Homo sapiens: one gene and its partners. The protein of the gene in region 1 purifies or fractionates together with the protein of each later gene. This does not show direct contact. Each region holds a gene or a part of one and is shown in the gene's direction. Other genes may lie near its edges. The genes, in order: TFAP4, ATF1, ANGPTL7 and CABIN1.

Evidence for each region.
Region 2: the proteins of TFAP4 (region 1) and ATF1 purify together in Homo sapiens (affinity purification with mass spectrometry; 2 studies listed by BioGRID and IntAct, with this or other methods). This does not show direct contact.
Region 3: the proteins of TFAP4 (region 1) and ANGPTL7 purify together in Homo sapiens (co-immunoprecipitation; 3 studies listed by BioGRID and IntAct, with this or other methods). This does not show direct contact.
Region 4: the proteins of TFAP4 (region 1) and CABIN1 purify together in Homo sapiens (affinity purification with mass spectrometry; 3 studies listed by BioGRID and IntAct, with this or other methods). This does not show direct contact.

What each region holds. Positions count from the first base shown.
Region 1 is NC_000016.10:4,270,014-4,277,747, reverse strand, and holds the start of TFAP4 (transcription factor AP-4), read left to right. Parts: upstream 1-4,724; 5' UTR 4,725-5,001; coding exon 5,002-5,090; intron 5,091-7,734.
Region 2 is NC_000012.12:50,759,313-50,767,109, forward strand, and holds the start of ATF1 (cyclic AMP-dependent transcription factor ATF-1), read left to right. Parts: upstream 1-4,788; 5' UTR 4,789-4,995; intron 4,996-5,014; exon of another isoform or gene 5,015-5,092; intron 5,093-5,157; exon of another isoform or gene 5,158-5,242; intron 5,243-5,266; exon of another isoform or gene 5,267-5,612; coding exon of another isoform or gene 5,613-5,680; intron 5,681-6,738; exon of another isoform or gene 6,739-6,835; intron 6,836-7,376; exon of another isoform or gene 7,377-7,797.
Region 3 is NC_000001.11:11,185,279-11,192,364, forward strand, and holds the start of ANGPTL7 (angiopoietin-related protein 7 precursor), read left to right. Parts: upstream 1-4,076; 5' UTR 4,077-4,301; coding exon 4,302-4,677; intron 4,678-6,991; coding exon 6,992-7,086. UniProt on the Homo sapiens protein: Has a role in the formation and organization of the extracellular matrix.
Region 4 is NC_000022.11:24,006,908-24,014,306, forward strand, and holds the start of CABIN1 (calcineurin-binding protein cabin-1), read left to right. Parts: upstream 1-4,396; 5' UTR 4,397-4,460; intron 4,461-4,462; exon of another isoform or gene 4,463-4,821; intron 4,822-4,850; exon of another isoform or gene 4,851-5,006; intron 5,007-7,399. UniProt on the Homo sapiens protein: May be required for replication-independent chromatin assembly. May serve as a negative regulator of T-cell receptor (TCR) signaling via inhibition of calcineurin. Inhibition of activated calcineurin is dependent on both PKC and calcium signals.

The sequences.
Region 1 (7,734 bases):
AACTTCTGATCTCAAGTGATCTGTCTGCCTCTGCCTCCCAAAGTGCTGGGATTACAGGCATGAACCACCACGCCTGGCCCAGTCTTTGAATTTTTAAAATTTTATTATTATTATTATTATTATTATTATTTTATGGATGGAGTCTCGCTCTGTCACCAAGGCTGGAGTGCAGTGGTGCGATCTCGGCTCACTGCAACCTCCACCTCCCGGGTTCAAGCGATTCCCCTGCCTTAGCCTCCCAAGTAGCTGTGACTACAGGTGCCCACCACCATGCCTGGCTAATTTTTTTTGTATTTTTAGTAGAGATGGGGTTTCATCATGTTAGCCAGGGTGGTCTCAATCTCCTGACCTTGTGATCTACCTACTTTGGACTCCCAGTTAAAATGTATTATTAAGACAGGGTCTTACACTGTTGCCCAGTCTGAAGGGCCATGGCGTGATCATAGCTCACTGTAGTCTTGAACTCCTGGGCTCAATCAACCCTCCTGCCTCAGCCTCCCAAGTAGCTGGGACTTTAGGCATGCACCACCGTGCCAGTCTAATTTTTTTTTATTTTTTTGTAAAGACAGCATCTGGTTATGTTGTCCAGGCTGGTCTCCAACTCCTGGCCTCAAGGGATCCTCCTGCCTCGGTCTTCCAAAGTGCTGAGATTACAAGTGTGAGACACTGTGCCTGGCCATTATTTGAATTTAAAGCTAAGGATCAGCAACAGTGTCTTGGAGAGCTATACTGAAGCCTGAGGGAAAGGGAAAAATCAGTAATACTGAGATAGTCATTAAAATGTGGAGAGTGTGTTTAGTATGGATTTTTGGCAGTAATTTATTTTATTTTATTTTATTATTTTATTTATGTATTATTTTATTGAGACAGGGTCTTGCTGTGTCACCCAGGCTGGAGTGCAGCGGCACGATCACAGCTCACTGCAGCCTCAACCTCCCTGGGCTCAAGCAATCCTCCCACCTCACCCTCCCGAACAGCTGGGACTACATCACCACGACAAGTTAATTCTTTTATATTTTTTATAGAGATGGTGTCTCACCACGTTGCCCAGGCTGGTCTTGAACTCCTGAGCTAAAGCAATCCACTCACTTGGGCCTCCCGAAGTGCTGGGATTACAGGCATGAGCCACTGTGCCCAGCCAATTTTGATGTTTTAAAATGTTAAATTAAGACGTAATTTGAGGCTGGGCGCGGTGGCTCATGCCTGTAATCCCAGCACTTTGGGAGACCAAGGCTGGTGGATCACTTGAGGTCAGGAGTTCAAGACCAGCCTGGGCAACATGGTGAGATCCTATCTCTACAAAAATTGCAAAAAATACCTGGGCATGGTGGCGCACTCCTGTAGTCCCAGCAACTCAGGAGGCTGAGGGACGAGAATCACTTGAACCCGGGAGGCGGAGGTTGCCGTGAGCCGAGATTGCGCCATTGGACTCCAGCGTGGGTGACAGAGCGAGACTCTGTCTCAAAAAAAAACAACAATAACAACAAAGAAAACCCAACATAATTTATCTTGGGTGTTGAAATTTTTGTCACTCTCTTACATTTTGCGATGTCAACTCTTGCCCCAGGAACCAGATTCTGTGTGGGCCTAGAAATGACTTCCAAGACAAATGAAAAAGCAGGTCTCTGCCATCCCCTGGCCGGACTCCAAATGCCGCTGCTTTGCGGGGGCTTCCTTGATTTATTAGGAGAGGGGATGAGTGCCTACTACCCAGTTCAGTGTGGGCAGCCAGCTCCCGGGTCTGCCTGGGCCACCCACTTGTGCCTAGGGTCTCCCTCTCATCCTTTCTGCCAAGGCTGTCTCCAGGGATATCAGCTTTGCAGATCACTCTCTGCAGTTCACACATGTGCCCAGCCCTGTACCATCCCCCGTGAAGAGAGAAAAGAGTAAAAGCACAGTCCCTCGTCTCTGGGAGACAAAATTGGACCAAGGAGGCCAGGTGCAGTAGCTCATGCCTGTAATCCCAGCACTTTGGGAGGCGGAGGCAGGTGGATTACGAGGTCAGGAGTTCGAGACCAGCCTGGCCAACATAGTGAAACCTCGTCTCTACTAAAAATACACAAAAATTAGCCAGGCCTGGTGGCAGGCGCCTGTAATCTCAGCTACTTGGGAGGCTGAGGCAGGAGAACAGGAGAATCGCTTAAACCTGGGAGGTAGAGGTTCCAGTGAGCCGAGATCGCGCCACTGCACTCCAGCCTGGGCGACAGTGTGAGACTCCGTCTCAAAAAAAAAAAAAAAAATTGAACCAGGGAGACAGCCAGAGAACACTCTGAAGGCCACATATAACTAAGTATGACAGAATGCTTTGCTCTGGAAAATAACAAAAGCAAGTACAAAATAAGGCCCTGATCAGAGGTGAGGTGTGGCAGGTGGGAGGATGAGTGTGATATAAAGAACCAGGGCTTTTTGCAGCCAGCACTCCTGAGTGCATTCTTGTCTGCAGCTGTGAGCTTCTGTCTTCCCATGTGCAAAATGAGAGGATAAGGAGACAGTAATGCACCAGAATAGCTTGCTCACTGCTGGGTGAGGTGGCTGATGCCTGTAATCCTGGCACTTTGGGGGACCGGGGTGGGCAGATCGCCTGAGGTCAGGAGTTTGAGACCAGCCTGGCCAACAGGGCAAAATCCCATCTGTACTAAAAATACAAAAATTAGCCGGGCTTGGTGGTGTGTGCCTGTAACCACAGCTACTTGGGAGGCTGAGGCAGAAGAATCACTTGAACCCAGGAGGCGGAGGTTGCAGTGAGCCGAGATCGTGCCACTGCACTCTAGCCTGGGTGACAAAGCAAGACTCCGTCTTAAAAAACAAAACAAAACAAAACAAAAAAAAGAATAGCTTGCTCACTAAGGGCAGTTAAAAATAGGCTTCCCACCAGGGCCATCCATGGCTCATGCTTGTAATCCCAGCAATTTGGGAGGTAGAGGTAGGATTCCTTGAGTCCCAGGAGTTCAAGACCAGGCTGGGCAACACAGTGAGACTCCTATCTCTATTTGTTGAAAAACAGTAAAAAGGTTTTTTTTTTTTTTTTTTTTTGAGACGGAGTTTCACTCTTGTTGCCCAGGCTGGAGTGCAATGACATGATCTTGGCTCACTGCAACCTCCACCTCCCGGGTTCAAGCGATTCTCCTGCTTCAGCCTCCCGAGTAGCTGAGATTACAGGCATGTGCCACCAGGCCCCCGGCTAATTTTGCATTTTTAGTAGAGACGGGGTTTCTCCATGTTGGTCAGGCTGGTCTCGAACTCCCGACCTCAGGTGATCCACCCGCCTCAGCCTCCCAAAGTGCTGAGATTACAGGCGTGAGCCAACGCGCCCAGCCGAAAGTTTTTTTTTTTTTTTTTTTTTTTTAAGTAGAAACATAGTAAGCCTTCCAGAGACTTTTTTTTGGTCAAGTGGTCTGGGATCTCTCCTTAGAGAAACTGCCTAACAGGTTGCTTCAAGGATTGGAGAGCGTGTAAGCAAAACTGCTCGGCATCCACCGGGTGCTGGCAACATCTAATAACAATATTTCCCAATAATAACAGTAACTATTGTTACTAGTAGGAATAAGTCAAATTAGGAGGCGCGATTTAGGCGGAACCTGGAAGGCGGTGGGCAGGATCCAGGACATTCCAAGGCAGGCGTGGGCTTCCTGAGCCAGGAGCCAACCCTCCAGGAGCCAGGGGAGGGCCTGGGGCCGGAAGGTGCGGCGTGCGAGCGGAGGACGGAAGCTCGCCGCCAGGGTCCCCGTCCCTGCCCCAAGTCGTCACCCCCTCTTGGGGAGCGCATCCTGGCGGAGGGGCAAGTCCCACACGGGCTTTGTTATGAATGGGAAGCTGCAGCCTTCAGCCCGCGGAGGGAACAGTGCGGGTCTGGGGGAATAGCAGGGGACCCGGCAGCAACCAGCAGACCTCCCCGCAGCGCTGGCAGCCTGCGCCCGGGGGCCGCTGCCGTTCAGGCCCGCCTCCACCCTCCCCTCCCTGCCGGGGCCCCCGGCTTCCTAGGGCGGCCCCAGCATCCGAGGCGCCCTTTGCCGTCCCGTCGCCGGGTCCAAGATTCCCAGGATCCGGAGTCCCGGCCGTGCGGCCAGCTAAGCAAGGCGGGAGGGAGGAAGCTGGCCGGCCTCCGAAGTCAGCCCCGAGTTACATGTGGGAAGCGGTGGCTGTGACGCAAGTTTCCAGGGGGCCCTGGGCTCGGCTCGAAGGGAGCACACCGGAGAGGCTCCGCTCCGTGCAGCTGCAATGGTGAAAAAGCAGAAGCCCCAAGCGCGAACCCCAGGCCGCCTTCCTTGCTGCCGCTGCACGCCCGACCCAGCCGCGCCCCCTCCTCCCTGCGGGCCGGCCGAGCGCGCGGACCCTGCTCTGGGCCAGTCGCTGCTGGACTCCGGGCTGCACGGGCTGGGCTCCCTGCGCGGTGGCTGGCCTTTTTTTTTTTTTTTTTGCAACGCTTGCCAACCTGTCAGCTGATGGACCTCATCACCCATAGTGGCGCATGTAGCTCGGCCGCAGCTCGCTCCATTCACGCCGCGCCCCGCAAGCCCGCCCGCGGCCCCCGGCCCCCTGCGCCCCGCGAGAGGCCTGCAGACCCCGGTTGCAGCCGGTCCCCGGGGGCCCGCGCCCCTCTCGCCCCGGCCTCGCGCCGCCCGGGGGGCGCTGCAAATAGTCCTTTGTTTACATGCAATTCCTTACTCCGCGGAAGGAGGCCGGGGGAGTGCTGAGTTTTCACCAGCTGTTTCCCGCCTTGAAACAGACATCTGATCAGCTGCAAACACACACACACACACACACACACACACACACACACACACACACACACATACACACGCCCGGGGAGGCAGGCCGGAGAGACCTCCCTCCCGCCCCTCCCGCCCGCCTCCCTCCCCTCGCCGCCGCCGCCGCCGCCAGCATCTGGGACCGGCCGATTCTGCACCTCCGTCCGGCGCTGCCCTTTGATTCGGATTTCCATCTTGCATTCTCCGGCTGATCGCGGGACCTGGCTCGTGCAGAGGAGGGGGGCCGATCGCTATGGAGTATTTCATGGTGCCCACTCAGAAGGTGCCCTCTTTGCAACATTTCAGGAAAACAGAGAAAGAAGTGATAGGAGGGCTCTGTAGGTGTGTACTCCTCCTCCCCCCACCCCCTTCCTACCACTGCAGCCCCCGGCCAGCCCGCCCGGGCGGGCGCGCGTGTGCGCACGCATGGCCCGCGCCGCCGACCCCGCTAGCCTTTCTTAGCTGCCGGGACGGCTGCAGCCCCACACGCCGGGTCCGCGCCGCCCCGGGACCCTCCTTCCTTGGAGCATGGGGGCCCCAAGCGGCCCCGGCCACTTTTGTCCGCTGCAGGCGGGCGAGTCGCGACGTTTGTAAATTGCAAACAGACCCACGTGGTTCTGCAGCAGTCCCGGCCATGCTTGGTGCTGGTGGCCTTCCCCCCCGCGCTTCCTCTTTCCCCCTCCTGCGGCGGCTTCCTTCCTCTCCTTCCTTCCTCGGGATCTGAGGTCGTCCCCATCCAAGGGGGTCTGGGGGCCCGGGGCGCGCGTGGGGGTGTAGCTAGGGCGGCTACAATGCAGCCATGCCGCGGCTCCCGGCGCGGGGTGGGGGCGGGGAGCCGGGCACTGTGCGTGTTTGCAGAGCGGGGCTGCAGCGGGGTCGGGGGCGTGCTCGCGTGTGGGTGTTGGGGGTGGGCGGACCCCGAGGGGCCCGCGCGGCCGGTAGGGGCGCCGCGGCCCGGGGCACGTTGGCTGCCGCTCGCTCGCCCGCCCGCGCCCGGGCGCTGTTTACTAGCGAGGCCTGGACGTGACTCTGCAGCCCTCTTGGAGTAGGCGGACCTCTGCGCGCGGCCTCGCGGGAGCTGTAGTTCTCCGTGTCCTGCTGGTGCAGCATTGTGGGATTTGTAGGCGCTCCTGGGCCACGCTTTCCCTGCACAAAGCTCGGCCCCCGCGGGCACGATGGGCAAGGCAGGCCAGGTGGGCAGGCCATTTGGGGAAGGGACACCTGAGGCCGCCCCTAGCCTCGCAGGGCAGCTTCCCGCCGCACGTGGGTTTCCTCTGCAAACTTTCCCATCCAACGCCCCTCCCCCCTGCCGTAAACCGAAAGCGTCGGGTCCCCCAGCCGGGTGGGTGGCCCGAGGTCCGCAGGCCTCCCCAGAAGCCACTTTGCAAGCTTTGGTCCTAGGTTGCTCTAAACCCAAAGGGTGATGGACTCAAGGACCACACACAGCCAAACCACCCCGCACACTTCTTAAAATGCACATGCCTGGAACTCTGATCGCTGGGGCCCGGACATCTGCATTTTGAACGACCCCCTGGGCGTGGTGTGGGGGAGGTGGGCGTTCTACGGCGTGCGCAAGTTTGGGACCTGTGGCCCCTTTCCTGCCGCGCTGCTCCAGGAGCGAAATGGCTCCCCAGGGCTGGAGCCACGTGCTCTGCCGCCCGAGGCAGTCTGGGCGGGGATTGAGGGAGGAGGAGCCCGCCGGTGTGGCACAGGCTGGTGGACGCTAGCGCCTGCAGAATCCGGCCTGGAGGGAAGGTTGCTGCACACGTGTAGACACTCCTGCCCAACCCTCTGCCCCGGGGGTCCCCACCTTAAGGCTACTCTGAAGTTCCCAGTCAATACCTAGACTTGGGCCAGTTGATGGGTTTGGCAGCTGGCAGGGATGCCCCGAGGGCTGGCCCTTGCACGAGGCCCACCTGGAGGGCCCAGTAATAATAAGTAAAAAAAATTCTTGAGCTCTTTTTATGTTCTGGGGACTCACTTTGCTAGAATTTTCTCACTGAGTTGTCATAATCTTTCTATGAGTCAAAAGTGTCTTTTGATTCCGCTTAAAGAGGCGGACACAGAGACTGGAGAAGGGACCACTACAGCAGGTGGTGGAACTGGAACTTGAACCCTTGTCCTGGGGTTGCTGCTGCTGCAGGGCTGGGCTGGGCAGCGCGGAGGTGCAGTTGAGCCGCTGTGCCTACTGGAGAAGACATTCTGGGCCTGATCCTGGGCAGGGTTGGGGGGCCCTCTGGCTGCCATGCCTGGGCCTTGGGTGAGTCCTCTCAGGGCCCCCTGAGATTCTGGCTTCAATTTATCCCTGCCCCAAGCGTTCCTTTGGAGCATACCAGCAGTCCCCCAGGGTAGCTGGATCTTGGTAGGCCAAGGACTTGAAGGTGTAGGGCCTTCGTCCAGGGTTGGACATGGCAACGTCCATTGCAAGACAGTTGTCAGCTGTGCATTAGGCATGGAGTTGGGGGTCCCTGGATTTGTTTACCTTCAGTAGGGGTTGCAGGGTGAGGTGGGAAGCCAGTCTGGGATCAAATGTGTTCATTAGGCAGGACCTTCTGGCCAGATGCATTTGCTTCTCAGGGTCATCTCAGGCTGGTGGGCTTTGCTCCATCCCTCAGTGACCAGCAGGGATCTCCCTGTCTTTCTGTCTCCCAGGCCTGCCAGAGGGGATTGTAGGGCACGGTGCTGCACACACAAGCTGCAGGTTTTGGACCTGTCGCCTAATGGTTCTCAGTCTCTGGGAAACAGAGCACCTGTGAGAAAATTAGCTATGGGTATGGCAAGTGCCTGGTAGCTGTAAAAATGACACTCAGTCTTTTTTTTTTTGAGACGGAGTCTCACTCTGTCACCCAGAATGGAGTGCAATCTTGGCTCACTGCAACCTCCGCCTCCTAGATTCAACCGACTTTCCTGCCTCAGCCTCCCAAGTAGCTGGGATTACAGGCATGTGTCAGCATGCCTGGCTAATTTTTTTATTTTTAGTAGAGAT
Region 2 (7,797 bases), on another chromosome or scaffold:
CAAAAAAAAAAAAAAAGAAAAAGAAAAAAAAAATTAGCTGGGCGTGGTGCTGCACATCTATAGTCCCAGGTACCTGGGAGGCTAAGGTGGGAGGATGGCTTGAGCCTAGGAGGTCAAGGCTGCAGTAAGCTGAGATCGTGCACCACTGCACTCCAGCCTGGGCGACACAGCAAGACCGTCTAAAAAAAAATCCAACATTTATTTAGTGCTTACTATATACTAGGCACAGCTCTAACTTTACGTGTATCAAAGTAATTCAGTCTACAAAACCCTATGGGATAGGCAGTGTTATTAAATCCATTTCATTATAACCTCTTTTTTTAAAATTTTTTTTTAATGGGATGGAGTCTCCTTCTGTTGCCCAAGCTGGAGTGCCATGGAGTGATCTCAGCTCACTGCAACCTCTGCCTCCTGAGTTCAAGTGATTCTCCTGCCTCAACCTCCCGAGTAGCTGGGATTACAGGTGCATGCCACCACACCTGGTTAATTTTTTTTCTTTTTTTTTTGAGACAGAGTCTTGCACCATCACCCAGGCTGGAATGCAGTGGCACAATCTCAGCTCACTGCAACCTCTGCCTCCCAGGTTCAAGCGATTCTCCTGCCTCAGCCTCCTGAGTAGCTGGGATTACAGGTGCACACTACCACGCCTGGCTAATTTTTGTATTTTCAGTAGAGACGGAGTTTCACCATGTTGTCCAGGCTAGTCTCAAACTCCTGACCTCAGGTATCCACCCGCCTCGGCCTCCCAAGGTGCTGGGATTACAGGTGTGAGCCAATGCCTGGCCACATCTCTCTTTTCTAACAACAAAAAAGTGTGCCAGAAGAGCCAAAGTGGTGCTACCACAGGCTTGCCCAGTTTATTTTAAAAAAAACAATTACTTTTGGCCAGACACGGTGGCTCACACCTGTAATCCCAGCACTTTGGGAGGCTGAGGCGGGCGGATCACCTTAGGTCAGGAGTTCGAGACCAGCCTAACATGGTGAAACCCCATCTCTACTAAAAATACAAAAATTAGCCAGACGTAGTGGTAGGCGCCTGTAATCCCAGCTACTCAGGAGGCTGAGGCAGGAGAATCCCTTGAACCCAGGAGGCAGAGGTTGCAGTGAGCCAAGATACCCCCACTGCACTCCAGCCTGGGCGACAGAGCAAGACTCTGTCTCAAAAAAAAAAAAAAAATTACTTTCGGCTCTAAGTTTCTTTTTCTTTTTCTTTTTTTTTTTTTGAGGTGGAGTCTTGCTCTGTCACCCAGTCTAGAGTGCAGTGGCACGATCTCGACTTACTGCAACCTTCACCTCCTGGGTTCAAGGGATTCTCCTGCCGCAGCCTCCCAAGTAGCTGGGACCACAGGTGTGCTCCACCACGCTCAGCTAATTTTTTGTATTTTTGGTAGAGGCAGGGTTTTGCCATACTGGTCTTGAATTCCTGACCTCAAGTGATCCACCCACCTTGGCCTCCCAAAGTGCTGGGATTACGGAGGACGTGAGCCACCCTGCCCGGCCATGGCTCTAAGTTTCTTTGTTTCACTTTCCTTGCTTCTAATATTAAAGATCTGTCCATCTGATTTATGAAACTTACTATTCAGATAAACTGCATGCATCAGAACCAAGACCTCTTTTTTTTTTTCATCTAGTTATCACAGTTCAGAAGACTGGTAGGCACAGTTTATGATACTTCAATGAGAAAGAGACAAGAAAAGCAGAAGTATTTTTGAGGGGCAGTGTTGAACAAGCATAACTTTTTTTCTTCTTTTCCTCTGTCAACTGAGTCGTGGTTTTTTGTTTTTGTTTTTTTTTTTTGAGATGGAGTCTCACTGTTGCCCAGCCTGGAGTGCAGTGGCACGATCTCGGCTCACCACAAATTCCGCCTCCTGGGTTCAAGCGATTCTCCTGTCTCAGCCTCCCGAGTAGCTGGGACTGTAGGCTCACGCCATCACGTCTGGCTAACTTTTGTATTTTCAGTAGAGACGGAGTTTCGTCATATTTGCCAGGCTGGTCTCGAACTCCTGACCTCAGGTGATCCACCCACCGCGCCCTCCAAAGTGCTGGGATTACATGCGTAAGCCACCGTGCCCGGCCTGAGTTGTTTTTTAAACAATTTTAAAAAAAATTATTTTAGAGGCTAGGTGCCGTGGCTCATGCTCGTAATCCCAGCACTTTGTGAGGCTGAGCAGGCGGATCATTTGAGGTCAGCAGTTCGAGACCAAGACTGGCTAACATGGTGAAACCCCGTCCCTACTTAAAAAACTACAAAAATTAGCCAGCTGTGATGGCACACACCTGTAATCTCTCAGCTACTTGGAGGCTGAGGCAGGAGAATCACTGAAATCCGGGAGGTGGAGGTTGCAACGAGCCAAGATTGCACCAGTGCACTCCAGCCTGGGCGACAGAGGCAGACTCCATCTCAAAAAAAAAAAAAAAATTAGAGACAGTGTCTCATCTGTCATGTAGGCTTGAGTGCAGTGGCATGATCACAGCTCACTGTATCCTCAAACTCCCGAGCTCAAATGATCCTCCTGCCTCAGCCTCCCCAGTAGATGGGATTACAGGCGCATGCCACCAGGACTGGTCGAGCGTAACATTTGATTTAGACCTAAGGCACTAAGGAAGAGGAGCTAAAGAAGTAGTCAAGGCACATTTTGAAGGTTTCATTTTTCAATAAAATTTCCAGGTTTTTATTTTTTTTCTTTGGAGACAGTCTCCCTCTGTGGCTCAGGCTGGAGTGCAGTGGCGTGATCTTGGCTCACTGCAACATCTGCCTCCCAGGTTCAAGCGATTCTCATGCTTCAGCCTCCTGAGAGGCTGGGATTACAGGTGTGTGCCACCACACCTGGCTAATTTTTGTATTTTTAGTAGAGACGGGGTTTCACCATGTTGGCCAGGCTGGTCTCGAACTCCTGACCTCAGGTGATCTGCCCTCCCCCACCTCCCAAAGTGCTGGAATTACAGTCATGAACCACGACGCCTAGCCCCTCCCCCGCTTTTTACTGATCAACTTTTGTTAAGCATTCTGTGGTCCACGGAAGAAAAAACCAAACACCAAAGAACAATAAACTTGTACAACCAGCCTTCCAGCCATCAATATTCTGGATTCCAGAATGATTGAGGCTGGACTTTGTTAATCATCGAAGGCTGGTATCTGAGAAACTCTTCCTCTCCCTTACCTTTATAGGCCACTTTTCTTTCAGTAATGCTGAAACACTGACTTAATAACAGTTGTCCCCTGGTCTAGCATTTAATAGGTAATCCACAATTTTTGCTGAATGTCAATAGCTAAACGTTAGTGACCTCTTAAGACTGTCTGGCAGAGTAAATCTTCGGCTTTATATCACATTCTCCGACCCAAAGGGCCAAAAATAGGCAAAGCTCTCTCCACTAAATCGGTTTCCTAAATTGGGGATCTCAAACTAGTAAAATTTCAGAAAACTTTCGGAACTTTTGTCAAGAGCATACTAAAAAAGTTTATCTTTTGTCGTTTACTATCATTAAAGCCATAAAACAGCATTTTACAAGGAAATTTTAAAAATTAAGAATAAGGCATAACTCCCTTCCAGAGAGGTAGACCCAAAAATATTCTGAAGTTTTTGTAATGCATTAAAATGACGGCATAACATTTTATTAACACTCTGTTACGTTTCTTTTTTCTTTTTTTTTGAGACAGTTTTGCTCTTGTTGCCCAGGCTGGAGTGCAACGGTGCGATCTCGGCTCACCGCAACCTCCGCCTCCCGGGTTCAAGCGATTCTCCTGCCTCAGCCTCCCAAGTAGCTTGGATTACAGGCATTCGCCACCACACCCGGCTACTTTTGTATTTTTTAGTAGAGACGGGGTTTCTCCATGTTGGTCAGGCTGGTTTCGAACTCCCGATCTCAGGTGATCCGCCCTCCTGGGCCTCCCAAAGTGCTGGGATTACAGGCATGAGCCACCGCGCCCGGCCACATCGTTATGTCTCATTGTAAATCCGTTTCTGTAGAAAATCCTTCCACATGGGTTAAAGGACACAACTCATTGTTACTTTATGGGATTAAGAAAAATCTGAGTAAGGCCGGGCACGGTGGCTCACGCCTGTAATCCCAGAACTTTGAGAGGCCGAGGCGGAGGATCACTTGAGCCCAGGAGTTCAAGACCAGCCTGAGCAACATAGAGTCCTCATCTCTTCAAGCCGAGCGTGGTAGCGCGCGCCTGTGGTCCCAGCTGCCCCATAGGCTGAGGTTGGAGAATCGCTTGAATCCCGGGGTTGGAGGCTGCAGTGAGTCGAGATCGAACCACTGCACTACAGCCTGGGCCACAGACCCCCGTCTCAATCTCGGAAAAAAAAAAGAGACTCCATCTAAAAAAAAAAAAAAAAAAAAAAAGCTGAGGAAGTCAAAGCCTTCACTCTTCATTTCTCCTTCCAAGAGGACAGGGCCGGCGTCGGTCAAGGTCAATTGGCAGGTGAGTTGACAGCGCCGCCACTAATCGATGAAAACGCCCCCCGCGAGCACCCAGCTGCTCATGGCCTCCGGAAGCGGACGTAGGGCGGGTGGGGTACAGCTCCTAAGGAGAAACGGAACCGCAGGCACCGTCCCTCTCCCGCTGCAGCCTGAGGAACGCGTTCCGAGGAACCCCTAGCCACAAGTCAGGACCGCGTACAAGATGGCGGCGCGTCACGTGGGCAGCGCGGTGACGCAGGACGGCGGCCCGCGCGGAGGCAGCGCCATAGCCTACCCCAAACGCACACTAGTGCTCAGTTTTGCCCCCCTCCCCTCCCCCGCCCCCGCCCCCGCCCCCAGGCTTGTGTAGATCATGCCGCCAGTAGCGGCCCTGACTGCCGAGGAAACGGTAGCTTAGGACAGTTGGCTGTTAAGTGACACTGATTCTCCCCGCCCCGCCTGACCCCCGAGAAGGAGGCTTGTCCCCCGCTGCGTGAGGGGGTGGGGAAGTGGGTAGTGAATTCGGATCTACCTGGGAGGGGGGAGTGGAAGTTCCCGCCCCGGAGAGCGGCGAGGCGGCAGCCACAGGTAAGTGGGGGGCGGGGAGGGACGTGCCCCGTGGCCCGGGCGGGGAAGGACGCGGGAACGTGGCGCCGGCGGGGACGCAGCGCGGGTCGCGCGCCTGGTGGGGGTCGCGCGCGGTGGTGGCGGTGGGGGAGGGGCGCAGCGGCAGGGGGAGGGGCCGCCCGCGCTTCCGGCCTCCGCGCCTCGGTGCAGAGCTGCGCTGCGCCCTTCCAGTCGTGCGTCTCCTCCTTTCCCTCGCCCCCAAATAAAAGTAAAGCCCGAAACCGCCCGCCGCGGGGTGGCTTTCGCCTCAGAAGCCGCCCTTTGCAGTCGCAGGCGCTAGCTCTCCGTGGGAGGTCTCGAGGTTGGGCCCGGAGCCGGGCGGAGGGCGGCGCGGATATGGCCTCGGCGCGGTGTCCGCCGAGCGGAGCCCGGGTCTGGTTAACCCCGCGACAGGGTCCTCGAAGCGCGTCGGCGCTGGCGACCCTGAGGGAAGAGGCGCGCCCCTTACCCTCCTGGAGCTTGCAGTCTAGCGGGCAACCGACGCACGGGCATTGCGCACGCCCCAGACAGTCCTGGAGAGATGCGCCTGGCAGCGGAGACAGAGTGGGGACAGTAGGCGGCTTTACCCCTGGCTAGGAATGACACAAGGGCGTCTGTACCCTTTGGGATGGGCGACCCAGCCGAGGGTGACTTTCTCTTTGATCTTGTATGTCAAAAAACGAAGCCTGGCATTTCTCACTTTGATCGACGCCGTGCAGCTGGCGGCTGAATCGCTTTGAAATGATTGCAATGTGAAATAATGTCTGGTTGTGGCGCTAGTGTTTTGAAGAGATTGGGCAACTGGTAGTCTTTGAGAACCTTTAGGGTTCAGAAGCTCGGCGTGGATCTGGCAGGCATCTTTGTCAAACTGGCCTCACCTGTGATGAGTTCGTAGGCATTTATGTCTCAGAATGCATTTTAACCTGAGGTTTTTGTTAACAGAAATGCGTTCTTCTAAAATGCTCTTTTTTCTTGGAGTTTATCATATGCAGTTATCTCCGTGTCTTAATTAGAATCAATACTGTTGCCCTAAAGTCGAATGTATTAGCTCTTTAATACTTGCCGTTATCTTTTAGGGTTAGGTTTGGTCTGTGAGCTATCTGTCCATTCCTACCCGATCACCAGCAGGTGGCAGTCCCTTCTGACTTTAAATATAGGGTGTGCTATCTTTGCCAGTTTTTGTTTTGTTTTGTTTGTTTGTTTGTTTGTTTTTAAATAGAGATGGTGTCAGAGGCGTGTGAACTAGAACAACTCCATCTTAAACAGGAGCTGGGTAAAATGAGGCTGAAACCTACTGGGCTGCATTCCCAGACAGTTAAGGCATTCTAAGTCACAGGATGAGACAAGTCAGCACAAAATACAGGTCATGAAGACCTTGCTGATAAAACAGGTTGCAGTAAAGAAGCCGGCCAAAACTGAAATGGCCACAAGAGTGACCCCTGGTCATCCTCACTGCTACACTCCCATCAGCGCCATTTACAAATCCCATGGCAATGTCAGGAAGTTACCCTATATGGTCTAAAAAGGGGAGGCGTGATTAATCCACCCCTTGTTTAGCCTATCATTGAGAAATAACAGTAAAAAGGGGTAACCAGCAGCCCTTGGGGCTGCTCTGTCTATGGAGTAGCCGTTCTTTTTATTCCTTTACTTTCTTCATAATGTTACTTTTACATCGCACTGTGGACTTGCCCTGAATTATTTCTTGCGCGAGATCCAAGAACCCTCAGTTGGGGCCTGGATCAGGACGCCTGTCCTGTAACATATTTCTGGCGACCACAAAGGGACTATAGTGCAGAAACCCTGACCCAACGGCTACCTTTGGGTAAGTGTTGGGGTCCTGTAACGTATTTGTGGTGGCCACAGAAGCGACTATACTGCGGAAACCCAGTATTTATGTTTAGGAGTCTCTCCTAAGACAGTGGGTTCGAGGCCCCTCTTAATAAAAGGCAAGGACGCTTAAGCTTGACTGACCTTGGGTTGGAGGCCCTTCTAAGATATAGGGAGTTAGAGTCCCTCTCAGGTAACTCCCTCTCAGCTAAGAACAGGTTTGGCACTATGGGATATTAACTGCTGTTCTCTTTGGATTAATCTGCCTTGCGCTCTTTGCTGATGGCTGTGGGTGACAGAGTTAGGCATGAACAGGATCGTGGGACATGGGGAGCTTTTTCCTCTCTAAAAGGGGAGTCTTTTTTTTTTTTAATTTAAGTTTTAGGGTACATGTGCACATTTTGCAGGTTAGTTACATATGTATACATGTGCCATGCTGGTGCACTTCACCCACTAACTCGTCATCTAGCATTAGGTATATCTCCCAATGCTATCCCTCCCCCCTCCCCCCATAAAAGGGGAATCTTGAGAGCTGATGGGACTGCTGGAAAAGGTCCCTTTGCTGCGTACAAGCGGCTGCCTGAGGTTTTCATTGTCGGCTGCAATGAGTGGGTCTTTTCTCTGGCCTCCCTAAGCTCTTCAGCTTCCCCACCCTGCCACAGGCAATACTTTTCTTATCTACTTTGCGTTTCTTATTTTTTCTATTACTCAGGGCAACCATCTTACCTAGAGGCCACATGTTGAAACTCCAAGTCGGAGGTTGAATTAAAGATGACAGGCCCATCTGGGGGCAAATTTAAGCCTTGCTAGTTTGATATTGGGTGCTAAGCGGAGTGGCTAATGTCTTTGTTTTATCACACGTATTTTGCTCTGGCCAGAATGGAAAAAACATAATTTTCCTTTATGATACGGCTTGGCCCCCAGGGCAATGATGCTGCAAGCTTGAACACTAGGACC
Region 3 (7,086 bases), on another chromosome or scaffold:
TTTAAAACTGACTCTGGCCAGGTGTGGTGGCTCATGCCTGTAATCCTAGCACTTTGAGAGGCTGAGGCTGGAGGATCACTTGAGCCCAGGAGTTCGAGACCAGCCCTGGCAACACAGTGAGACCCCCATCACTACAAAAAAAAAAAAAGAAAAGAAAGAAAGAAAGAAAGAAAAAAAGATAGTTGGGTGTGGTGGTGCATACCTGCAGTCCTAGCTACTCGGGAGGCTGAGGTGGATGGATCACTTGAGACTGGGAGGTTGAGGCTGCAATGAGCCATGGTTGCCCCATTGCACTCTAGCCTGAACAGAGTGAAACCCTGTCACAAAACAAAACAGAACAAAACAAAACAGGACTCTAAGAGAAGGCCTGAGAGAAAAGACTTCTAATAGGTTCAGGACACATTCTTTGATAGAAGTGGCAAATTAGAAAGCTCAGGGAAAAGATGGAAATATCTTCTGTGATGGACTTGGACTTTCAGTTGAGACAGGAATGGGATGGAGTGCTAGAAAGGCAGATATGTGGCCGGGCATGATGACTCACACCTGTAATCCCAGCACTTTGGGAGGCCGAGGCGGGTGGATCAACAGATCAGGAGATCGAGACCATCCTGGCTAACATGGTGAAACCCTGCCTGTACTAAAAAATACAAAAAATTAGCTGGGCATGGTGGCAGGTGCCTGTAGTCCCAGCTACTTGGGAGGCTGAGGCAGGAGAATTGGCGTGAACCCGGGAGGCAGAGCTTCCAGTGAGCCAAGATCGTGCCACTGCACTCCAGCCTGGACGACAGAGCAAGACTCCGTCTCAAAAAAAAAAAAAAAAAAAAAAAGGCAGATATTCAACGGCTGTATAGAGTATGGCAGGCTGTGGTTTTTTCAAAGACTTCAGAAGAAGTGAAATATTCCTTTGAGATACACAATTAAAACTAACAGCAAGGCAGCTTCTTCTGAGATGTATTCATTCCACAAGCTGAGAGTGGGCAGCAGTCTCTCCAACGGGGCATTTTCAAGCAAATGGGATCTGATGCTCCTCTCTGGATAGAAGGAGAGACCACCCCTAGGTGCTCCCCTGCCCTGTGACCCTCAGACTACCTTGGTGCCAGCCCAAGGCAGTGCGGCCCAAACACTGTGAAGTCTTTTGAGAACCTCCAGGTTGAGTACAACCTCACTGACTTTTTTCATTAAGAACAAAAGCTTAATTTTCATAAACACCTTTTCCAGGAGCACCAAGCTAGCCCTCTTTCAACACCAGCAAAATGGAGAAAAGGAAAATCTAAACAGTATCCAACCTAGGTTTTCCAGATTTTGTCAGTTAATTCCCATTTTTAAGGTCACTCTGCTCACTGAAAGGCAGAAGAAGGATTTAAAAGCCTCTTTCAGAGAAGGCAATACCATTTTAGTCCTCCACATCCTTCATGGTTTTCTCTACTGGCTTAGCTGTGCTCAAAACAAGGACTTCTTTTTCCTTCATTTAGATATTCAGAATCTAGGACATCATAAGGTTGTGGATGTTTTAGAAAATAGATAATCTTCTGGCATGAGAAATATCCTTAATTAGCTATTTTTCCTCAAAACTGGAGGGGGGGTGAGTATTGACATTTGGGTAGCTTATGCAATTCAAGAGCTTCTGTCTTCTGTCTTCAAGTATTGCCTTATGTTAGAAATAAGTTTCCAGAAAATAAATGTCAAAGACCAGACACTCATGCTAAAGGCTAGATGCTTCCAATACAAACTTACGAACCTCCTCCTACCTTTCCTAAAAGGGACTGTTACATGGGGTACAAATATGAATGATTAATTTATTTTCTGCCCACATATAAGAATCAATTCATAACACTTTCCTGTTTGGGTGAGCTACTGGGAAGAATAAACAAAAGCTGGCTAGAACTCCACAAAGTTCCACTGTTCTTTTGTGCTTTCTCTGCTGCACTGTTACATGAGAGTTCCAAGGCAGCAGGGTCACGTGGGATGCTATACATCAGTGGTCCCCAATCTTTTTGGCACTAGGGACTGGTTTCGTGGAAGACAATTTTTCTATGGACCAGGGTGGGGGTGGGGAGATGGGGGATGGTTTTGAGGTAAAACTGTTCCACCTCAGATCTTCAGGCAGTACTTAGATTCTCACAAGGAGCACGCAACCTAGATCCCTCACATGTGCAGTTCACAACAGGGTTCACACTCCTGTGAGGATCTAATGCTGCCACCGATCTGACAGGAGGCAGAGCTCAGGCGGTAATGCTCACTCACCTGCCACTCACCTCCTGCTGTATGGCCCTATTCCTAACAGGCCATGGACAAGTACAGGTCTGCAGCCTGGGGATTAGGGACCCCTGCTATACATGACTGTATGGTACATAGCACTTCTGTGGCATGTGGTTTAAGCTCAGTGTCATTTGATGGCCAGGAGATCCACTTGAAAATCCCTATTTTTAGCAGACCTTGTAGGATGCCAATATTTGGGGCCAGAGTCTCGTTACTAAAATGAATGCTATGGAGCTAAGGCTGTGGTGCCCAGCTGGGCTAGACATTTGCAAAAAGAGAGCAGACTGGCAGACAGTGCCAATTCTCAACAGAATCTTTTGATTAGAATGCCAAGTTGCTATAAGGGTATCAGTAACATCCTCACCCTTTAGCAGGCAAAGGAGGCTGGGTATGTGAGAAAACAAACTCTGATCCACCTGATCCTCCACTGCTTTTTGATTCTGAGAAAAAAAAAAATTGTTCAGTAACTCCAGCTGCCTGAACAGAAATTACTTTCTGAGGAGCTAGAAGCCCTGACTGGAAAAGAGCTCTGGGGGATTATGGCATGGGAGGAGAGCTGTCAGGCATCAGGCTTATGTGGGAAGGACCCACGCTGACTACAACAGTACAAGTAACTGCCTGAGTGGCTCCATAACATGGAAACAGCAATCGTATGTTCCAAAGACAGAGTTACTGTTTTAAGGACAGAGGAACCTTTGTATAGATTCTTAGTGAAAAGCTTATTTTAAGGATGTTTGCTGAAACTCCATGTTTTTCACATTTCTTTTCAAAAGAGCATTGTCCTTCATATATAGTACATGAAAAATTACAATATTCATGTTTTTTAGATACAAAGTCATATACAAATAGAGGAGGAATAATTTCAAATTGCAAACCATACCAGCAAAGAAAGAGGGAAATGAGACTCTAGATATGGATTTATTAGGTGACAGGGATTCTTTTCTCTATATTTTAATATATTTTCCAAGTTTTGAACCACGGGCTAAGGATGGGCCTGTTCTCTGTCCTGCCTAGAAACTGACAGAAGCATGGGTGACCAATCCCAGACATGCTTGGCACTGCTGAGTTTTCATCTCTGTTGTAATCTTCTGACACCTCCTTGCAAAATATCAAGTGTTATATGCTAATACTGGCCCTCTCTTTGTTGAAGGAGAAAGCATGTAAAAAGACAACTGTCCAAACCCTGTGGCTACAAAGTCTTTTTTTGGCTTCCTAAGAGATTTACTCTATTCTTCTATTTCTAGAACTTTTCTAAGTTGGAAGATTTCAAATGTGAGATAGTGTTAGATCCAGGTTGAGTAAGGATTTTATAAAATACTAAATAATGATCAGAGATGGGAATAATCAGCCTAGATAAAAGCATATTCAGCAGGATGTCAAAATATACCAGATCCTCATATAAACAGCATGGATTACATTAACAGGCCTCCCTGGGTGAGTAGCGTCTCTTTCGCCTACCTTACGCTCACCCCATGGTTATATAACCTTTTGAACGGAATTTGGAAATTCTTCTGACCCTGTCCTGCTTGCTGATAGAGTTGAGCCAGTGGCTGGCAGGGGCATAATCTAATAGGCGAAACTGGAAACACACAAATTCACAGTCCTCTTGTCTTAGCCCAGAGACTGTACAGGCAAGGAAAGAAAGACTCGCCCCATCTCCCTCCTCCCCTCCTCTGGCCTAAGTTGCCGCTGACTTCACCCAACAGGCACCTGACCCTCCCAGATGAGCTGGGAGGGGCTAAAGCCTGGTGCAGCCATGGTAGGGGTGGAGGTACAGGCAGCAAACAATATTTAAGATGCTGACTTGTGGAGCATTCGGGCTTGGAAGGAAAGCTATAGGCTACCCATTCAGCTCCCCTGTCAGAGACTCAAGCTTTGAGAAAGGCTAGCAAAGAGCAAGGAAAGAGAGAAAACAACAAAGTGGCGAGGCCCTCAGAGTGAAAGCGTAAGGTTCAGTCAGCCTGCTGCAGCTTTGCAGACCTCAGCTGGGCATCTCCAGACTCCCCTGAAGGAAGAGCCTTCCTCACCCAAACCCACAAAAGATGCTGAAAAAGCCTCTCTCAGCTGTGACCTGGCTCTGCATTTTCATCGTGGCCTTTGTCAGCCACCCAGCGTGGCTGCAGAAGCTCTCTAAGCACAAGACACCAGCACAGCCACAGCTCAAAGCGGCCAACTGCTGTGAGGAGGTGAAGGAGCTCAAGGCCCAAGTTGCCAACCTTAGCAGCCTGCTGAGTGAACTGAACAAGAAGCAGGAGAGGGACTGGGTCAGCGTGGTCATGCAGGTGATGGAGCTGGAGAGCAACAGCAAGCGCATGGAGTCGCGGCTCACAGATGCTGAGAGCAAGTACTCCGAGATGAACAACCAAATTGACATCATGCAGCTGCAGGCAGCACAGACGGTCACTCAGACCTCCGCAGGTAAGGAGACCAGTCCCCTGAGGGAGCGTGGAGTGCCTCCCCATCTACAGCACTGCTTCTACATATCCTGGTCATCAGAACCACTACTGGGGCCTCTTTTGTGGGTACACTTTCCCTTTAGTAAAGGCTTATGCAGTATTTCCTTTGACTTCTAATGCTATGTAAGTTTACCTAACACCTTCACGGGTCTCTTTTATCCACACAGTGTTTCAGCCTACCATCTTGGAGTGCTGAGATACTACATGGTTTGCCCAAAGTCACCCAGCAAGTCTTAGAAGCAGGGTTCAAGTCTTCCTGATTGGTGTAGCTCTGCTACTTCCTCACCAAGAGCTGACAGGCTATATCTCAAGAAATTCCAAGGAAGCACCAAACTGTAACAGCTGTTCCTCTGGAAGCAAAGTTTTGCCAGAAACAGTTCTCTGGTGTTCCTAAGATTTACCAGGAATGAGCATTAATGGAATTTTGTGTCCTCTCTCTGTAAACGTAACTCTTCTCATTGGCTCAGAGTTAAGTGTAGAGACACATAACCATGTGAAGAGTCCCTTTGTGTTCAGGAAGGATGCGGCTCCTTAAGGTTCCTCAATTGTGATACGTCTATTTTTTTCCATGGTCTTAAATGAATTTCTCCGAATACAGGATTTTTTAAATGCAATGCTGAAATATAGACTTAATAGGCCAAAAATAAGATAAATTTAATCTTTCTTTTGCAAAATAACTTTTATTTCTGGTTAGCTCAGCTCAGGTGGGCCAACATGAATTTACGGTTTAGAGATAAAAATTTGGTTTTCTGAAATTATCAGGAAAATATTAGTTGTAAGGAGCATATCCTATAGACATGTCATTTCTTGCTGATATAAAAACCATTGGTCCCATTATAAACTACATGAAGAACAAAGACATGATCAGCTTCTACTGACTAAGTCAATGGTTAACCTCAGCTCAAATTAAGAAAAAGTTTTAACATGAAACCAAGCTTGAAAATTCTGTTACCTGAACCAACATGTATCAATCACTTTCTAAGCATGGACTTCCGGGCCCTCAGTTTGGGATTAGAAAGGTATTCTCAGGCCATTTTCCAGACAAGTGAGTCCTGATTTGGTCTGTGAGATGAAACCAGACATGCGGAAGACCAGGCCAGACAGAGGAATCTGACCGTGCCACTTCCTGCTCATCCAAACAGGAGGCTTTCTCACCATCCTGCAAGGAGGTTCTTGGGGTCAAGTGCAGCTCTCCCACCAGGTCTCTTGCTCTTCTTGCCCAGGACATCATTCCTTATTTTTCTTCTCTATGACCAAGTGCTCAGTTACCCTTATATTCTATAAGTAGGTAGTCCCTTAGAGGAAGCAGTAAGTTGGTGCTTTCACCACTAAGACGAAATGAAGAATAGTGATGGCGAAGGCACACGTACTCTACCTCCCTTTCCCAAGGTGCTCTGCAAGAGAACCTATGTGCCTCAGACAACTCCCATCTGCCATCTTGGTGCTCCTCTCTAAGGTCCCAGTGCAGTGGTCACCAAGAAAAGCACCCCGAGACATAGCAGGCAGGAAGCTTCTCTTGGATAGTAAGGGCCGCAGTCTCTGAATCCTATCAGAAAAGGCTGTCTCTTCCACTATGCTCTTTGATATTTAGAATACAGAGCTTAAATCCTGCATAAAGTAGCAGCTCCATGGCCCTAGAGTAAAAAAACTGGCCAGTCTGATGCTCTCATTTCATTGTTTTAACAAAACTTCTGGGAGGAAGGCCTCAAAGGTTCTTCTGAGTGTTTTGAGGTGCTAGCTGGATGGAAGGGGAAAATATGTGATAATAAAATCTATCTCCCTTAATTATGGTCTCAGGTGGCAGTAGCCACCATCTCTGAACAACAACAAAAACAACCAACCAGGAAACATCAACAAAACCAGACTCTATGAGATATTCACGACTGATTTGTTATAGTGGCGGCTGTCTAAGAAGTCTGAATCTATCTGACAGGAGTATCTGTTACGTGGCCCTCATACACTGTAACATTTCTAGAATTCATGGCCCAGCTATAGCAGAATAATTTATTTCAGAGTTAACCTGAAACCACCTGTTGGAACGTCCCACTAATGCTATCCAGGTGAAGGGCTTCCCTACCCCTCTGCTCCACCGCTAGTAAAGCCAAAATACACCCCCTCTGGATCTCCCCATATCCACCTCTCCCAAATGCAGACACTGATGGGTAATTAACACCACTGAGAATCCCAGGGTAGAAATAAAGGCTCAGTCTCTAAACACTCAACTCAGATGGAGCCACTGGGTCTAAATGCTCACCCTGTGGTTTGTTCTCTTGTAGATGCCATCTACGACTGCTCTTCCCTCTACCAGAAGAACTACCGCATCTCTGGAGTGTATAAGCTTCCTCCTGATGACTTCCTGGGCAGCCCTGAA
Region 4 (7,399 bases), on another chromosome or scaffold:
CCTTCCATCTCTGGGGGTCCAGGCCCCTGCCCCAGCCTGCATGACAGGGCCTAGGAAGCTCACCTTGCACAGGTAGACATTGGTGGCAGGCAGCTGGATGGTGACATGCTTCCACGCCAAGTACTCATCCACGCAGGTGCGGGCTTGCAGCTCAGGTGGGTACCAGTGTCCCCGTATCTGGTACTTTCGACTCAGGTATAAAACGATGACCATGCTGTGGGCAGGGGGTGTCAGAGATCTTTTCTCCAGCCTGTCAGGGCCAGGTGGCTTCATTGCTCATACTCAGGGTGATTTGACCAGGTTTTCTCCCCACCTTCACCTTCAGGGGAGGACCTCCCCTATACTGCAACTCCCTCCAGGCAGTATCTCCCCACGACCAAACCACTCTGTTTCTCCATTTCCAACTCTGATCCTCCCTGGGCCCATGTTTCCACCTCCCCTCCCAGTTACCATACCATCCTGCCCTCTGTGCCCAGGCCCCACTCCCTGGCATCAGGGTCCCCACTCAGAGTGCCTGCCGTGTGGGCCCTGCCCAAAAGGTCTCCAAGTTCCCTTCCTAGTGCCCCAGAACACTAGGTGCCCATTTTCTATCCTCAGGTAAGCCCTGGGAGGTGGATACATTATTCCTCCCACTCCGTTTTACAGAGGAGAAACCTGGCACACAAAGTTCTGTGATTTCCCCAAGGGCATGGATTGAGGAAGTGGTGAGCTGGGATTGAATGTGGAGTCTCCCCTGGGTCTGCCCAGCTCCTAGGACTCTGAAAGGATGAGCTGGGGACATTTGGGGAGGAGCCAGCCTCAAGCCTGGGCCTTGCCCGCTGGCTTCAGGTTGTCCAGGTTTATCCGGGTGACCTACGTCCTTTCCCCACCTGGGCAGCTCCAGCTGGCTCAGACTCTAGCCAGGTTCCAGCCTCCAGCTTTAGCCCAAAGGTGCCCCTGGGTCCAGCCTCTGCATCGGAGCTACACAGGCTGAAATGAGGAAGGGGCCTCAGTGATTTGGAAAGATCTCCAAGCCAAGGAAAGATCTCCCCTCTCGCCTCTGCCTCCCCCTACAACTCTGAGCCCCAGAACCCAGGCAGATCCTGGCTCTGACCCTGGGTGGGCACCAGGTCACCATTACCTCTTTGCTAGTAGGAAGTCGCCATCTCTGAGGGCAGGCACCTTCCCCAGGGGGTTCACCTTCAGGAACTCAGGCTTCAGGTGCTCCCTTGGTGGGCAGAAAGGAGAGAAGGCTCAGTGTAGGGCCTGGTCCTTGGCACCCACTCCATGGGGCCCAGCCCAGCCACCTGGCTCACCCCAAGCCAACTCCACCATCCACAGCTCAAAAGGGATGTCATTCTGTCTTGCAAAAGTGGATAGTGTGTCAGGTCCAGGAAGAGCTCAAGCCCCATTGCTGCTCCTCTCACCTGCCCTCCCCAGAATTCTGGACCTCCAGGAGTTGCTCAGCCCTTCTCCACTAGTTCTGAGCTGTTTCCTCTCCATAGTCTGCTGTAGTGGGCCAGAGCACAGGGCAGATTTGTCTTCAGGGACTTTCTCTGGGCATTCCTGGGCAGAGAACTTCATCTTCTCTGTTAACTCTTGCTGATAATTCTCTGTAGCTAGGCACCTTGTAAAACCCATGTCCCAGAATGCCAAACCTGGAAATGCAATGTCAGCGCCGAAACTGCATTGAAACTGAATGAATGAGGTCCCCACCCTCTTATCTAAATATCCTATCAGTCTGTTGAATGTCAAAGTATGTAGGGGTGGTGTGGGGGAGCCTATAGGGAGTCTCCATTTCTGTAGCTTTCCACATGTTCCATGCAGAATTTTCCTCTAATGACCCTTGGACACCGTGGTGGTCACTGTTTCCCTGCATAAACCTTTGATGATCCTTATCTTTAGCGTACCAGTGAAACACCAAATTCAGATTTTCAGTCTGTGCAGTCTATGTAGTTAATAAAATCAATTTCTAATGGAATATGCCTGTGCCTGGTGTGTTTGTACCTAACCACTGCTAAGGACTTTCATTGATAGCTAGACCTTGGAGTTCCTTCCCCTGGACCCCTGACCCAAGTATTTTGCACTCATTCCTCTGCCAGTGTGTTTCATGGTGTCCTGCTTCCCAGAGTGCCTCAGGGAATGCTTGCATTGGATATGAATGAATCGTTGCGGTCACCATGGATGGGATTCAGGCCTAACTCTCACCAAGACCATAAGGCCACAGTCTTTGATATAGATTCCCCATGTTAAATCTGCCATCCTCAGTGTAGTGAGAGTGATATTGAGAGAGAAAAGTTAGGTAATTAAGGTGGGTCCTTGGTAAAACTCCTTTAAACAGAGGAACAGCCTGAAAAATCAGGCTTCAGGCACAGATAAGGAAACTTGCACAAACCTCTGGCTCACTCAGATAAAGGAACAATGCCCAACACAGAAACACCTTTGATCTTTGTGCCTAAGGCATGCCCACAGCTACTTTGATAAGGGAACAAGACCCAGCATAGAAATGCCTTTGTCCTTTGTATAACCAGTGGGCTTCCAGGAAATAGTCTCTTCTCCTTTTGTGGACATGTACACGGTGGGCTACAGTGGGTTCCAGTGGGCACTTTCCTTTCTTGGACGTGCTTTAGAATGTGAGCCTCTGATTGGTCCTGGGCCAGGCTATCACTTCAGCTCCTGATTGGTCCCTCAAGGTCCAGGGGCCAAGCTGAGTAGTGCTTTCTCCAAGACCAGTCAGTACATTCCTTCCTTTCCCAGTCCATAAAACCCCCTGACCCAGCCTCATAATGGGCAACCTGCTTGGGCCCCCCGCCAGCTGCAATGAGCTTTCTTCATTTGCTTATTAAACTTTTGCTTCAACCTTACCCTTTGTGTCCACACTCCCTAATTTTCTTGGTCGTGAGACAAAGAATTCTGGGTGATACCCCACAATGAGAGACTGGTACATTGTGGTGCACGGGCAAGACTGCAACAATATGTTTTCTGCTTGCTTGTTTGGACTGGCCTCTTCCTAACTCTCCAGAGTGCTCTCTCCCCACTGTGGCCCTGAGCTTTGCCTCACGGTAACACTGTGCTGCATGACACTCCAGCATGATCTGCATGTTTCTCACCTCCGGACCTTCCCCACACAACTTTCTTGCTGCTTGGACCACCCTTCCCACCTATTTTCAACTGTTTCTCTCCAGCGCATCTTTCATGATAAGGCTTGAGTGGAAGCTGTATCCGAGGCTGAAGGTTATCCATGCAGCTTTGAAACCATCTGTTTATGCTTCTGTTTACCCCCCAAATACTGTTTACCCCAATACTCAAAGTCAAGGTTGGTGACTCAACAATTTTCAGAACTTCTAGCTTATCAGTATAGCTTTATTGTACTGAACTGAGTTTTTCACCATGCTGTTACTGTCTTTGAGGTTAAAAAGCCCCCAACATTCACTCCTATTTGAATCATCTGTGCAAGACTCAAGCAGCTATGAATTCAACCACAGTGTAAAGTTCTTCCCTACAATGCTTTATTGTTATTCTAGCTCCCAAGAGAGTACCATCTTTCAGCCCAAGACCCTTGACAGAACCCCTTCAACTCTGTCGCCTTTTTTCATCTCTGGAATTCTGACACCACCCATGACCCCTCTTCTTGTTCATTTACTAGGTTTTGTTCCTTTTTTTCCTTTTGTTTCAATATCCTATTGTATCTGTTCCTTTTGGGCTTCACATCCTTTTTGGAAAGAGAGGCACAGGTAATATAATGAATGAGGATGCTCCTCCTCCCTGGTTCCCTCTAAGTCAAGTTTCTCCAACGCGCTGGTCTGCTTGGCTTTGAATGCGGCTCAACACAAATTCATAAACTTTCTTACAACATTTTGAGATTTTTTGGTGATTTTTATTTTTATTATTTATTTATTTATTAACTTATCAGCTATCCTTAGTGTTAGTGTATTTTATGTGTGGCCCAAAACAATTCTTCCAACGTGGCCCAGGGAAACCAAAAGATTGGACACCCCGCTCTAAGTGTTCCCCAAGTTTCCACTGTTTTCAGAGCACATGTCCCAGGTAATAACACACAGCCCATCATTTAGTGACTGCTCAGGGTGCAAGCTGTGGAGAAGAGAGTCCGACTACGAGCTGGTGCTCTAAGCCTCCAGCACGCTAGGACTGACGACGGGGATCCGGAAACAACAAGCTCCACTCCCGCAACACACACACACACACACACACACACACACACACACACACACACACGCACACGCACACGCGCACGCGCGCACACACGCGCACACACGCGCGCACGCGCGCGCGCGCCGCCCAAGGGTAGCCGTCTGCAGGGCCCCAGCTAAGCAGCCCGCGGAGAGCGAGCGGCGCGTGCGCCCCCGCTGATTGGCTGGCACAACCGGCACCGGAGCCAATGGGAGCACGCCTTGTTGTCAGGCGCGCAGCCGGACGGCGCGGTGGTCGGGACAGACTGGCCGTTGCTGTGGAGACGCCTGGTGAGTTCCTGGAAGGCTGGTTTGAAGGCGGTGCCGGGGTGGGGGTGAGGCTCAGCAGAGCCCGGGGCACAGGCCGGAGGGGCTGCAGGCGCGAGGCTGGGTTACGTGAGGAAGCTGGGGGTTTCGCGGGCAGCTTTAGAGCCCCAGTCAGGGAAACCGAGGCCGGGCTTCCTGGCTGCCTCGCGAGCCTCTTCATGGCTCTCGCCGCCGCCCTGAGGTGCCTAGAATGGGTTCCGGCCTCCGGGGAGGTTCCCAGTAACCGCAGGAGCCACCATTGATTTGGCGTCTGCTGGGTGCAAAGCCCAGCGCGCTAACCCTTTACTCGCGACCTTTCGCTTCACCTTCACAGCAGCCCTGCGAGGTGAGTGTTGTTATTGGTGCCATTTACAGGGGTGGAAACTGAGGCCGCGGGTAGGTGAAATGATTTGCTCCAAGTCACCCAGTGGGTGAGCGCGACTCCAGACTGAAAATTTTGACCGTTCTGCTTCACTGCCTCCCCGCAAGAGGCGGGCCCTGGCCAGATGGAACTCACCTGGCATTCCCAAGGTATCTGCACAAGTGGCTTTGGGAGTCACTTAACTCTTCAGGACCTGGGTTATTACAGGTTATAAGTGTGGGACCGTCGGATTCCATGTGGCTAAGATTCTTTCTATGTGATTATTGTGGTTAGAAATAGAATATGCTTAGAACAGTCTCGTTCAGCGGTCGGCAAACTTTTGTTGTAAATATATCAGTGTTTACATTGTTATATTGTAAGTATAATGAGTATAATAGTATTCATAATAGTAGTTTAGGCTTGGGGGGTCCATACTCTGTCTACTTAACTGTAGCGATGTAGTGTGGATACAGCCAAAGACAATACATAACAGACTAGCTGCGTCGCAATAAAATTTTAATTATAGGGACCGAAGTTTTAATTTTATATATTGTTAATATAATTTTCACGTGTCATGATTTTTTTTCCCAAATATGAAAAAATGTAAAAACCATTCTTTGCTCGTGGGCTGTACAAAAAGGGTGGGCTGGTTAGCTTGCAGAACCCTCATCTAGTACAAAGCCTCATACATGAGGGGAAACAGACTGAGAGACTGACATCTATGTCAAGTCAGTCACACAGCCAGGGCACTGCCACCACTGAGCTTAAGACATAGGCTTCCCACCTTCCAGGCCAGGAAACATCCCCAGTTATCACTCTGGATCAGGGTGCTGAGGTCTGAAGGTGTGCTACTCTTTATCGTGTTCTGAGGCCATGGAAACTATATTCTAAGGGGTTTGGAAACTTATTAGCTTAGACTAATAAGCCTGGTGAATGTGCTGCTATCTGAGGAAATGCAGCTGCTGGGCTGGGAGTCAGAAATGAATAGATATTTTTCTTTTTCATGATTATTCAATAGCTTTTGTGTGTGTGTGTGTGACGGAGCCTTGGTCTGTCGCCCAGGCTGGAGTGCAGTGGCATGATCTCGGCTCACTGCAATCTCCGCCTCCCGGGTTCAAGCAGTTCTCCTGTCTCGGCCTCCCGAGTAGCTGGGACTACAGACACCCGCCACCATGCTTGGCTAATTTTTGTATTTTTAGTAGAGACGGGGTTTCACCGTATTGGTCAGGCTGCTCTCAAACTCCTGACCTCAGGTGATCCACCCGCCTCGGCCTCTGAAAGTGTTGGGATTACAGGCGTCAGACACCGCGCCCGGCCTCAATAGCTTTTTTTTTTTTAAAAGCTCCTTTTAGTGAGTTTCTTGGATTTATGGTGAACAATACATAAATGGTTACCATCCTCACATTGCTTACAGATGATAAATATATAATCAAAATGGTTATTTCTTTTTAAGCTTTTTTTTTTTTTTTTTTGAGATGGAGTCTCGCCTGTGGCCCAGGCTGGAGTGCAGTGGTGCGATCTCGCCTCACTGCAAGCTCCGCCGCCTGGGTTCACGCCATTCTCCTGCCTCAGCCTCCCTAGTAGCTGGGACTACAGGCGCCTCTCACCATACCCTGCTAGTTTTTTGTATTTTTTAGTAGAGACGGAGTTTCACCGTGTTAGCCAGGATGGTCTTGATCTCCTGACCTCATGATCCGCCCGCCTCGGCCTCCAAAAGTGCTGGGATTATAGGCGTGAGCCACCATGCCCGGCCTCTTTTTAAGCTTTTTAAACTAATTTTAGATTTAGAGAAAAATTGCAACAATACAAAACGCTCTGTTATGTCCTTCACCCTGCTTTCCCTAATGTTAACATCTTACATAATCATACAATTATCAAGAACAGAAATCTAGTGTTGGTACAGTATTATTAACTACATTACAGATGTGATATGAATGTTACCATTTTTTAAATTAAGGTTGTGTTTTCATTCCAGGACCCTATCCAAGATCCCATGTTGCATTTAGTTATTTCTCCTTGGTCCATAACACTTCCTTAGTCTTTTCTTGTTTTCCTTGGCTTTGATGCTTTTAAAGAGTAGTGATCAGTTATTTTGTCTAACGTCTCTCAATTTAAAGGTTTGTCCAGTGTTTTCTAATGATTGGGGTGAGATTATGCATTGTTGGCCAGAACACAAAGACACATTATCTTTGTGTCTTTCTCAGTGCATCACATGGAGTCCAAGATATTGGAATGTCTTATTACTGGTGATATTTACCTTGATCTATTGGTTTACTTGGTGTCTACCAGGTTTCTACACCATAAAATTACTATCCCTTTCTAATTAATAAGTCTCTTGGGAGAGATACATTGAGAGGACACAAATTCTCGTTCTCCACAAATTTGCTCCCTGACTTTAGCATCCATCTGCAGATCTTTGTGGTGTTTGCCTAAAGGTAATTATTTCTCTCTTTCCTTCTACATTATTAAGTCAAGTTCTACTGAAAGGAGAACTACCCTCTCTCTCTTTTATTTATTTATTTGATTATTTATGTGTCAGTGTAGGCCATGGATATGTATTATA